Regions from separate parts of the Homo sapiens genome. Here region 2 is linked to region 1. The links come from fine-mapping of genetic effects on gene expression. Tissue or cell type: whole blood. Region 1 holds a variant in brackets; the other region holds the start of a gene. All regions are shown on one strand. Distances are from middle to middle. Region 1 overlaps ESR2 (estrogen receptor 2). Region 2 holds the start of MTHFD1 (methylenetetrahydrofolate dehydrogenase, cyclohydrolase and formyltetrahydrofolate synthetase 1).

Region 1 (5,382 bases):
GAAAGGCTTTTCTGAGAGTGTTGTAAAACAAATGTAACGTGACTATGAAAAGAACATGATTAACATCTTTGACTCCTATTTTTTCTGAAGAAAATGTATTTTGATATGAGTTCTAGAAGAAGGAAACTATAAGGATCTGTTCATCAACAGGCATTAGAGTATACACCGTAGGATTGCATTTTACGTTCAAGCATTTTTTTAGATGAATTTCTGAAACATTCTTATTTTAAAAGCCATCAGATGCTTGTTAACACTTAAGTCTTGCTCAAGACATAGAAGTTTCTGAAATCAATTAACATGTTTAGGACACATTTCGTAGTGTTCTGAGGGATGTGAATAAATCTAATCACAGTTTACATTTCTTAATGTATTTATAATTCAGAAAAGGTAGAATTTAGTAGTAAATTCAACTCATAACCATATAATTAACATTTAATAGATATTGATATGTTCACTTTTAAGAATAAGAAGGAAATTTTCTATAAGTGTATGTTGAACACATAATAATTCAAAATTCATGTGATAATTTTAGGTGATGCTTTGAGTCGTTTTATAGAATATAAATATGGATAAAATATAAAATACTGAAGGCTGAACTCAAAGTGTTTAATGATAAGTTTTTGATAATACATCTAGAAACCTTGAGAATTGTATGCTTGAACGTTAGATTTCATAATTCAGTGTCTAGCACATTGTTTTATATGCAATAGCACTTTAAAAAAATTAGGCTACAGCAGTATAATTTACATACAGTAAAATTTAGCCTCTGTAAATGTACCTCTATGAATTCTGACAGATGCACAGTCATGTAACCAGCACCGCACACATGACACAGAACAGTTCCATTACCCCAAAAGTCCCCTTTGTACCTCTACCTACCCCACTGCCCCTGAAAATCACTGATCAAAACTACATAATGATTATGTGGTTTTGCTCTTTAGTACGTTTTTACTTAGACATATTTTCCTTTACTTCTTTTGAAAGAAAAACCTGTTTTTCCCTTTTTATAGGATGAGTCAGTTTGTGCTATTTTTAATTCTAGTACCTTGGGATAAATCAAGGCAAAGACAATGCTATTTGCAAATGGGAAACTTGAGACTTGGACTAAGTGTTAAATTCATATAGGGCTAATAGATTTAGTTCTTAGCAGATTTAGATTCTATTGTGGTTTAAGCCTTTGGTTATGGCATATATCATTAGTTATCCTGAATTGAAATACAAGGCCATTAAAAGTTATTTATATCATATTAATAGAATGCATCATTCTTTTATAATCTTTGAATTTTAAAACTTCTTTATTAAAAAAAAAACTACTTTTCATTATACCTGAGATTAAGAAAGCTACCTGAAATTGCATATTATCAAATAGTGAGAAGCAAAACAGGGATTGAAAATGACAAATTGAAGACATTTAAAATGCAGAGTGATTACAATTGCTGAAGGTAAAATATTTATCTTCATAGGGGCTTAGGTCTGTGTCCAACTTATTTGTAGATGTCAGGATTTTTAAATTTCTGTGCTCATGTCTTGAAGTCTAGATTTTCCTGCAGGGTGGAGATGTATAACCTTTTGTAAACTAATATTTTTCACTGTTTAACACAGTATTCAATTCAGTATACAGTTAGGAGCCTGTTATTGGTAGGTACTGCTAACATATATATATATAAAATTGATGTCTTTTTCCTTTTTCCTTTGTTCTATGAAAAACAGCCTGTATTTTAAATATGTAACTTACCTTGCATACCCAGTTACAGTGGTAGTAACTAGGATATGCAGAGTGGCAAGTTTATGAGGAGCTAGCAAACTGGATAGTTGGCCTTCCTAGCTGGAATTATGACAGGTCTTGAAAATGAAGGGCTTTTAGTGGAGAATCTTTGTGTGGGTGTACTTGAGAGAGGGCAGGAGAGTTAGGGTGACCTAGAAAGATAGATTGCTGGACTTGTATATGTTTCCTCAAAGCCAGACTGCAGCATTTTGTTAGTAAATTGTTGTGTGTTCTACTGTCAAACCCAGGCCTGGAAGGGGAGTTGAGTGCATTCAGCCTAACTTCTGGATTGGCTGTGTCATCTTGAATCCCTTCACTCGGAATTCTCTCTGACCCTGTCCCAAATGAATATTTGAATTTGGTCCAGTTCCTACAGAGCATGGTCTGTGGCTGTTGTTGGTGTTAGGGAAGAGCAGAAACTTGCTGTTGAGAGAGAAGACACTTGAGAAGACTGATGAACTCTCTCCCACCCCTGCCTTCGAGGCTTGGTCCTCCTACCCTATTCAAACCCTTGAAACTCTTTCCTATCCAACTAAATAAGCGCCAATTGGTTACTAGGAGAATTAGCTTTTCCTCATTTTAGAAGGAAACAGGGTTTCCTTATGTACATGTTCTTAAGAATTACATGCAAATCAGTTATTAATGATGAGTTCTCTGGTGATTTTGGAGTGTTTTATCTTCCTAATATTAAATTAATTGAGGGCCTTAATATTTTGTTTTGAAAGAATATATTTAAAAAGGCTGGGTGTGGTGGCTCACGCCTGTAATCTCAGCACTTTGGGAGGCCTAGGTGGCTGGATCACTTGAGGGCAGGAGTTCAAGACCAGCCTGGCCAAATAATGAAACCTTGTCTCTGTTAAGAATACAAAAAATTAGCTGGCCATGGTGGCTCAAGCCTGTAGTCCCAGCTACTCAGGAGGCTGAGGCATGAGAATTGCTTGAACCTGGGAGGCCGAGTTTACAGTGAGCCGCGATCATGCCACTGCATTCCAGCCTGGGCAACAAAGCAAAACTCT[A/G]TCTCTAAATAAATAAATAAATAAATAAATAAGAATACATTTAAAGATAATAATTGGCCAGGTGTGGTGGTTCATGCCTGTGATCACAGCACTTTGGGAGGCCGAGGTGGGAGGATTGCTTGAGGCAAGGAGTTCAAGATCAATCTGGGCAACACAGTGAGACCCTATCTCTACAAAAATTTAAAAATCAGCTGGGCATGATGGTGCATGCCTTTAGTCCCAGCTACTTGGGGGGCTGAGTTTGGAGGATCCCTTGAGCCCAGGAGATCAAGGCTGCAGTAGGCCATGATCTTGCCACTACACTCTAGCCTGAGTTACAGAGCTAGAGTATAACCCCCACCCCCCAAAAAAGCTAATAATTGTCAAACAGCTACTTATGCACATCAAGGATGCTTGTTGCTTAAGAAATCTTTTTAAATCTTTTCCATGAAATTCCTTCTAGTTGCTGCTTTGTGAGCGTGAATTTTTTACTTCTGCAGGACACACAAATGTGGAGCATTTGAACTGAATGCTTGGGAAAGTGTGATGGGCAGGTGGAAGAAGAATAGGGATGAGGACTTATCCTCTATTCTTATCCTCCTAGACTTATCCTCCTAGTCTGCAAGCTTGAGAATATGGCATCAGGAATATGTGGCATTTTGTCCACACACACAGTGTTGGCAGGCTACCAGCAGCCCAGCTATCTGGACTAGGGGTGATGGATTTCTGTGGACAGAAGTCAAAAAGTAAAATTAGGAGGCAAAAATCTTCAGGGTGGCCATAAAGACATTGTAACTTGTCTGGAAATTCCAACCAACACTAAATGTGTATCCAGTGATATACCAATAGACTGGCTTCATCTTCTTGGATGTGTAATAATACCTTACAGAATGCTTTCTTTTTTTTTTTCTTTTTCTTTTTCTTTATTTTTTTTGAAATGAAGTTTTGCTCTTGTTGCCCAGGCTGGAGTGTAATGGCACAATCTCAGCTCACTGCAACCTCCACCTCCCAGGTTCAAGCGATTGTCCTGCCTCATCCTCCCGAGTAGCTGGGATTACAGGCATGTGCCACCATGCCCGGCTAATTTTGTATTTTTAGTAGAGACGGGGTTTCTCCATGTTGGTTAGGCTGGTCTCAAACTCCCGACCTCAGGTGATCTGCCCACCTTGGCCTCCCAAAGTGCTGGGGTTACAGGCGTGAGCCACTGCGCCCGGCCTCAGAATCCTTTCACAGACATCATCTCATTTCACCCTCAGAGCACCGTGAAAAGGTACAGCACCAAATAGGTACCTGATTCTACTGAAGAAGATGTGGCAGCTCAGGGAGTTTGTGGATTTGTCTAAGATTGCCTGGCTTTCAGGCAGAGCTGGGGCTAGAATGAATGTTCTGCTCTATCCATTGATAGAATATACATAAGAACAGGCTTGATGGTGGCTGACCTTTTTTTTTTTTTTTTTTTTGAGACAGAGTTTTGCTCTTGTCACCTAGGTTGGAGTGCAGTGGCGTGATCTCGGCTCACCGCAACCTCCACCTCCTGGGTTCAAGCGATTCTCCTGCCTCAGCCTTCTGAGTAGCTGGGTTTACAGGCAAGCGCTGCCACACCCGGCTAATTTTGTATTTTTAGTAGAGACTGGGTTTCTCCATGTTGGCCAGGCTGGTCCCGAACTCCTGATTTCAGGTGATCTGCCCACCTTGGCCTCTCAAAGTGCTGGGATTACAGGCATGAGCCACCCGCGCCCGGGTGACTGATTTCTTATTAACTAGATTTACAGGTGCTTTGATAAAAACCAGTCTAGTCTTGGCTGGCACGGTGGCTCATGCCTGTAATCCCAGCACTTTGGGAGCCCAAGGCGGGCGGGTCACGAGGTCAAGAGATCAAGACCATCCTGGCTAACATGGTGAAACCCCGTCTCTACTAAAAAATAGAAAAAATTAGCTGGGCATGGTGGCGGGCACCTGTAGTCCCAGCTACTTGAGAGGCTGAGGCAGGAGAATGGCTGAACCCGGGAGGTGGAGCTTGCAGTGAGCCAAGATTGCACCACTGCACTCCAGCCTGGGCAACAGAGCAAGACTCCATCTCAAAAAAAAAAAAAAAAAAGTGTAGTCTTTTTGGAGTGTTTTTCTGCCATTTCTAGGGCCAAACTTTTTCTTGTCCATGAATCATTGTCAAAATTGGGAATTTTAAATACTACTTTTTTCTTTTAATTCAAAAGCCATAGTATGTTTCCCAGCCAGTACATTAGAACACCATGCACGATCCCATGTGTACAAAAAGCTTTCTGGCTGAATTCAGATGTGACCTGAGAGGGCCAAATACAGGGGTGTGTGCTGGGAGAGAGAGAGAGGTCTCTGGACAGAAAACAAAGCCTGTTCACCACCCAGGATATGGACCAACTATTTTAGGTTATGGTGACTAAAGAAAATTGACATGCAAATAAATGAATAATTCTTAGAATCAGGATGTCTGGGTACTGGTTCTTTGGTTGGCCAGGTGAAATTCCATGCCAGGCCCAACAATTAAACTCTTTAGAGACAATTTTTTCCTGTTGTACCAGAACATTGTACTGAGGCCATGTTTGAACATTCAATCGATGTGTTGGGAAAACTCTGCCCTACAATGTT
Region 2 (5,382 bases), 98 kb before region 1:
AGTGCTGGTTAGAATGAAAAACATCATATACTGGGTGAAGACCTTAGTTTTAGTTGAGCCATTGCCATTCACCCTTGGACAAATCACATCACTTTTCTGGCCTCAAATGATTTCCTAATCCGCAGGATGGAATGTGGGAAGTGGGCTGGATTTTTAAGAAATTCTAGGACCGGTGCAGTGGCTCATGCCTGTAATCCCAGCACTTTGGGAGGCCGAGGTGGGTGGATCACATGGGGTCAGGAGTTACAGACCAGCCTGACCAACATGGTGAAAGCCCGTCTCTACTAAAAATACAAAAATTAGCCGGACGGGGTGGCACACACCTGTAGTCTCAGCTACTCGGGAGGCTGAGGCAGGAGAATCGCTTGAACCTGGGAGGTGGAGGTTGCAGTGAGCCAAGATCATGCCATTGCACTCCAGCCTGGGCAACAAGAGTGAAACTCTGTCTCAAACAAACAAACAAACTAGCTGGACATGGTGGCGGACGCCTGTAATCCCAGCTACTTGGGAGGCTGAGGCAGGAGAATCGCTTGAACCCAGGAGGCAGAGGTTGCAGTGAGCCGAGATCACGCCATTGTACTCCAGTCTGGGCGACGAGTGAAACTCCATCTCAAAAAAAAAAATTAGCTAGGCGTGATGGCGGGCACCTGTAATCCCAGGTACTCAGGAGGCTGATATGAGAGAATTGCTTGTATGCAGGAGGCAGAGGTTGCAGTGAGCCAAGATTGGACACAGCAAGACTTCATCTCAAAAAAAAAAATAGATCTCAAGGCAGCAGCTACCATGTAAAAAAAAAAAAAGATAATGAATCATTCATATATACATTAACTAATTACTGATTATTAATACAACATATATCGAATACTTATTATGTGCCAGGAAGAATTATAAATGATCATCTGTTAGGAACCCATTTAATTCTACTAACATCCCAATGACCTAGACATTACTTTTACTTAACATTTGAGGAAACTTTGGCACAGAAAGGTTAATTAATTTGCTTAAAACCACACAAGTAGTAAGGCAGGAAACAGGGTTTCCAGGTGTTTAGGATATAGACAAAAATAAGACAATACATGTATTTGCCCTTATGGAGTTGATAAACATATTTAATTTGCTCTCCAATTAACGAAAGTATATTCAGTGAGCACCTATTCTCAGTACTGGCCCAGATGCATTATTATTGTACTAAATTATCTGCACTATTATTATGCACTAAATTATCTCTTCACAATCAGTCTTTCTAAAAGGAAGATTTTTATATTAAAACAAAAAGCCACTGGAAAAGGAAGTAAGTTTGAATACAAGCAAACAAAAACAGAAAGTAAAGCAGAAATACAGTTTAGCAAGCCACATGTTGAAAAGCACTAAGCAGTAAGTATTGTGATTTCTTTTTTTTTTTTTCTTAGACGGAGTTTCGCTCTTGTTGCCCAGGCTGGAGTGCAATGGCGCATCTCAGCTCACTGCAACCTCTGCCCCCCAGGTTCAAGTGATTCTCCTGCCTCAGCCTCCCAAGTAGCTGGGATTACAGATGCCTGCCACCACACTCGGCTAATTTTTTGTATTTTTAGTAGAGATGGGGTTTCACCATTTTGGATAGGCTGGTCTTGAACTCCAGACCTCAGGTGATCCACCCACCTCGGCCTCCCAAAGTGCTGGGATTACAGGCATGAGCCACTGGGCCCGGACTTTTCACCACCGATGACTTTGTAATTCACTCAAAAACCTATTACAAAGTTAGGAGTTACAGGACAATTACAATTTAGTAACTGCTGTGGCTGGCAACAGTTACTTACATAACGGGTGATGTGAAAGGTCCCAAGAGCAAACTCAGTAAGGTCACACAGAATATATCTTTCCCTCCTTCATCTACTAGAGGGAATATATTTTTCCCTCTTCCTTCTACTCTCATTTTTCCTCACCAGTCACCTCCCAGACAAAAAGCAGCCAGTGTTACTTCCTGGGAGTAAAGCTGGCAACGATACCCACTAATTAAGCATTCAGATGTCCCGCAAGGGTAGAACAGGCAGAGGTCAAGTGGAATGCAGAATATTCTCAGGACTCAGGAGCCAAATTACGTTTCAAGTAACTCTAGGACCAGGGCAGAGAGATGGCTGTTAGAGAGAAGCACGAGATTGAAGAGAAAGGAAAAATGTATTAGATTTCACTTAGCGTATGATAAGACTATGGTATAGTGGGAAAAGCTATGAGCTGGAAGGACCCTCTGTCATTATCAGCCTTGTAGTCTTGTCAAGCCTTGTCACCTCACTAGTCTCCATCTACTCACCTCCAAATTAACGGGAATTAAGTAGATTGGATTTCTGAGTTCTGACTAGGGGGGCTCCAGGAAGCCGCAACTACCCACTCTCCCGGCAGAAAGTCACCAGCAGCTGCGCGTTTGGGAGCATAGTCGGCACAGGACTTTTCCCCGAAGCACAGGAGCCAGCGGCTACAGCCACTAGGCAGTCCACTTGCAAACGCAGGTTGTGCCCGGGTTCTCTTTCTTTGGCTGCAGGTCTTCAGGTGTTATGGGCCTAACTCTTCCGCTACAAGTGTCCCTCCCGCAAAAAATGGGTCCGGGGGACCTGCACACCCTCAGAGCCCTCGTCCACAGCCCCACACTCAACAACAATGTCAGGTGCTTACGCGGAGATCTCCTTCCCGTTCAGGATTTCTGCTGGCGCCATGGCCTTTATTAGTCCGCTGCCCACGATGGACACCACCAATATCGAGGTTCCACTCCCTCCGCAGCCAAGCAGGACAACCCAACCCACGTGCTTAGGGACTGGCCAGGGGATCACACTACTGCGCCTGCGCCCCTGCCCGCTTCTCCCCCTGCAGACGCGGTGGCGCATGCGCAGTTCGGAAGGACCCGAGTCCCTTAACTAACCGAGAGCTAACAGGTCGGGGACTGCGGGACGGAAGAGGGAGGGGAAGATGAAGAAAATCGGTGATGAATGGCTGGCGGAAATGATTGGCGGAAAGAAAGAGCCAGTTCACAGTGCGCCTTTGTATTCGGCGGGAAACCCGGCCGAAGAGGGAGCTGGAAAGGACTCCGGAATCCGGCCGTAATTCCAGCCAATCAGGGAGTAGAGTTGCGGGGCGGGGTTGGGGCGGGGCAGTCTCGCGGGAGATAGTTTCGCGGGTTCGGGAGGCGAGTCTCCGGTTTCCGCCCAGTCTCTGGGGACGCGGTGGCGGGGTCTGAATCGCCTGGCTTCCAGGGAGTTTTGGGCGGGTCCCCGCACGGGAGCGTGGCAGGCGCTGGACTCGACAGCAGATGTGGAACTGGAGAGCTTGGCGCGCCCTCATACTTTGTCACACACCTACGCCACCAGACTGGGGTCGGGCCCCTCCGCGTTCTGCTCTGGAGGGCCTGGGTCTGGGCCCAGCATAGCGCTTTTAGAATCTCCTCAGCTGAATCTGACGCTCAGCCGTAGGTGAAGCTTAGCCCGCTGTTTCAGGCCCCGCCGATCTGGAAGGAGTGTCAGAGCTGGAGCGCGCGTGGCCTCATCGGTGTTGGGGTCACCCCGGGGTTGCCAGGGCTCATGGAGGGTCGTAGTCTGGATTTTGTCACCCCCACGTCCCCGCCCCGCAGCAAGTCTGGGGTTGGAGAACTCACGCGGTCTTCGTAAGCTACATGCCAGTTGACCCTCGAGGAGGGATGCTCCCTCCCCTTAAGCGTCCACGCTGGAGAAGGAGTAAGATGGACAATTGCCTGGGGAGCCTGACAGGGCGGTGGCAGCTGGGATGCTGGAGAGGACTGGCCCCTTGTGTTACTGAGTCCAAGGAATATGCTTGCTCTGCTCTAGGAACCGCGTTCAGGTTACAGTCATCCCAGTAGAGTCCTGAAGATGCGTGGTTCAGGTCACTTAGGACTTGACCAGATACCGGGTTTCTTTTACAAGCCGTTTACTACTGGCAGAGCTCATCTAAAACTTTTTTTGTTTGTTTGTTTGAGACGGAGTCTCATTCTGTCGCCCAGGCTGGAGTGCAGTGGCACGATTTTGGCTCACTGCAACCTCCGCTTCCCGGGTTCAAGCAGTTCTCTGCCTCAGCCTCCCGAGTAGCTGGGATTACAGGCACCACCTAATTAGCCCGCCACCACGCCCGGCTAATTTTTGTATTTTTAGTAGAGACGGGGTTTCACCATCTTGGCTAGGCTGGTCTTGAACTCCTGACCTCGTGATCCACCCGCCTCGGCCTCCCAGAGTGCTGGGATTACAGGCGTGAGCCACCGCACCTGGCCTAAAACTGATTTTTTATTAATTTTGGGGCTTTTAATATTTTTTTCTTATTTCTAAATTCTGAGGTTATTTATAGTAGCCCCATATACGGGATTAGATAATCTCTTGTGATTTTCTATTTCTGGTAATTATTTCTAATATATGTTTTTTTGTTTTTGAGACGGAGTCTCGCTATGTCGCTCAGGGTGGAGTGCAGTGGCATGATCTCCGCTCTTTGTAGCCTCTGCCTCCCGGGTTCAAATGATCCTCCCACCTCAGCCCCCCGAGTAGCTTGGACCACAGGTGCATGCCACCACGCCGGCTAATTTTTCTATTTTTGGTAGAGTTGGGGTTTCACTATGTTGACCAGACTGGTCTAGATCTCAAGGGATTAGTCTCCCTTGGCCTCCCAAAATGCTGGGATAATGGGCATGAGCCACCGTGCGTGGCCTTAAAGTTACTATTCTTAAAGTTTGCACAAGTGATATGTTAAAGGCACAGACTTAGTAATATAATGTCATTATAATAATAACCCTAAAACACATTGTCTCATATTGTGTTGTACCTAAACAAGTGAAATTAAGAAGAAAATTGAAGGAAATGTTTCTGGTAAATTGCAGATAGTGAATCTTTTGTCTTATACTATCAAATAGGTATTGACTATTCCAGCTTTCTTATTTGTTGAGGAAGATGGCAGAAATCCCGTTTTACAGAGGGATAGACTTTGAAGGATAATACCCAAAGCTGCATAGCTGTGGCTGGTATAGGCCCCAAACCTGATGTTTCTTCTCTAAATCTACTGCCTTTGCCATCTCAACAGCCTGGTTTTTGACAGTTATCTATGTATGAGTTGCATAAATCGTTCATTCATGGAGCAAATAATTATTGAGTGGCCACTATGCCAACAGCACTGCTATAGATGCTAGAGATACCCTAGTGAACCAGCAAAGTTTCTGCTCTCAGCTCATATTCTGGTGGAGGAGACAACGATCAAGTTAAAGAAATACATAGGCTAATTTTAGAGATTATGACATGCTATATTTTAAAAATAGGCAAGCTAAGAGGATAGGCAGTGATGCTGGGAGGTGGGAAAGTTTTGTCTCAGAAATGTGGTAAGAGATTTCTTTGGGCATCTGACTTCAGCAGAAACCTTAATGAA

What was found. PIP is the estimated chance that this variant, and not a neighbour inherited with it, causes the effect.
Region 2: it holds the start of MTHFD1, and the variant in region 1 is fine-mapped to the expression of MTHFD1 in whole blood (TOPMed, PIP above 0.99).

Annotation. Positions count from the first base shown.
Region 1 is chr14:64,287,825-64,293,206 of GRCh38, reverse strand. The region is part of intron 1 of ESR2 (estrogen receptor 2); the gene reads left to right. Among named protein-coding and RNA genes, the nearest start is that of ESR2, 3.9 kb to the left of the region's middle. The variant A/G (reference allele first, on the strand shown) is at 2,782.
Region 2 is chr14:64,385,733-64,391,114 of GRCh38, reverse strand. It overlaps MTHFD1 (methylenetetrahydrofolate dehydrogenase, cyclohydrolase and formyltetrahydrofolate synthetase 1), which reads right to left and starts at 2,762. Exons shown (of 28, transcript NM_005956.4): 1 at 2,647-2,762. The coding sequence starts at 2,687. RefSeq lists enhancers at 2,910-2,999, 3,520-3,579, 3,600-3,699.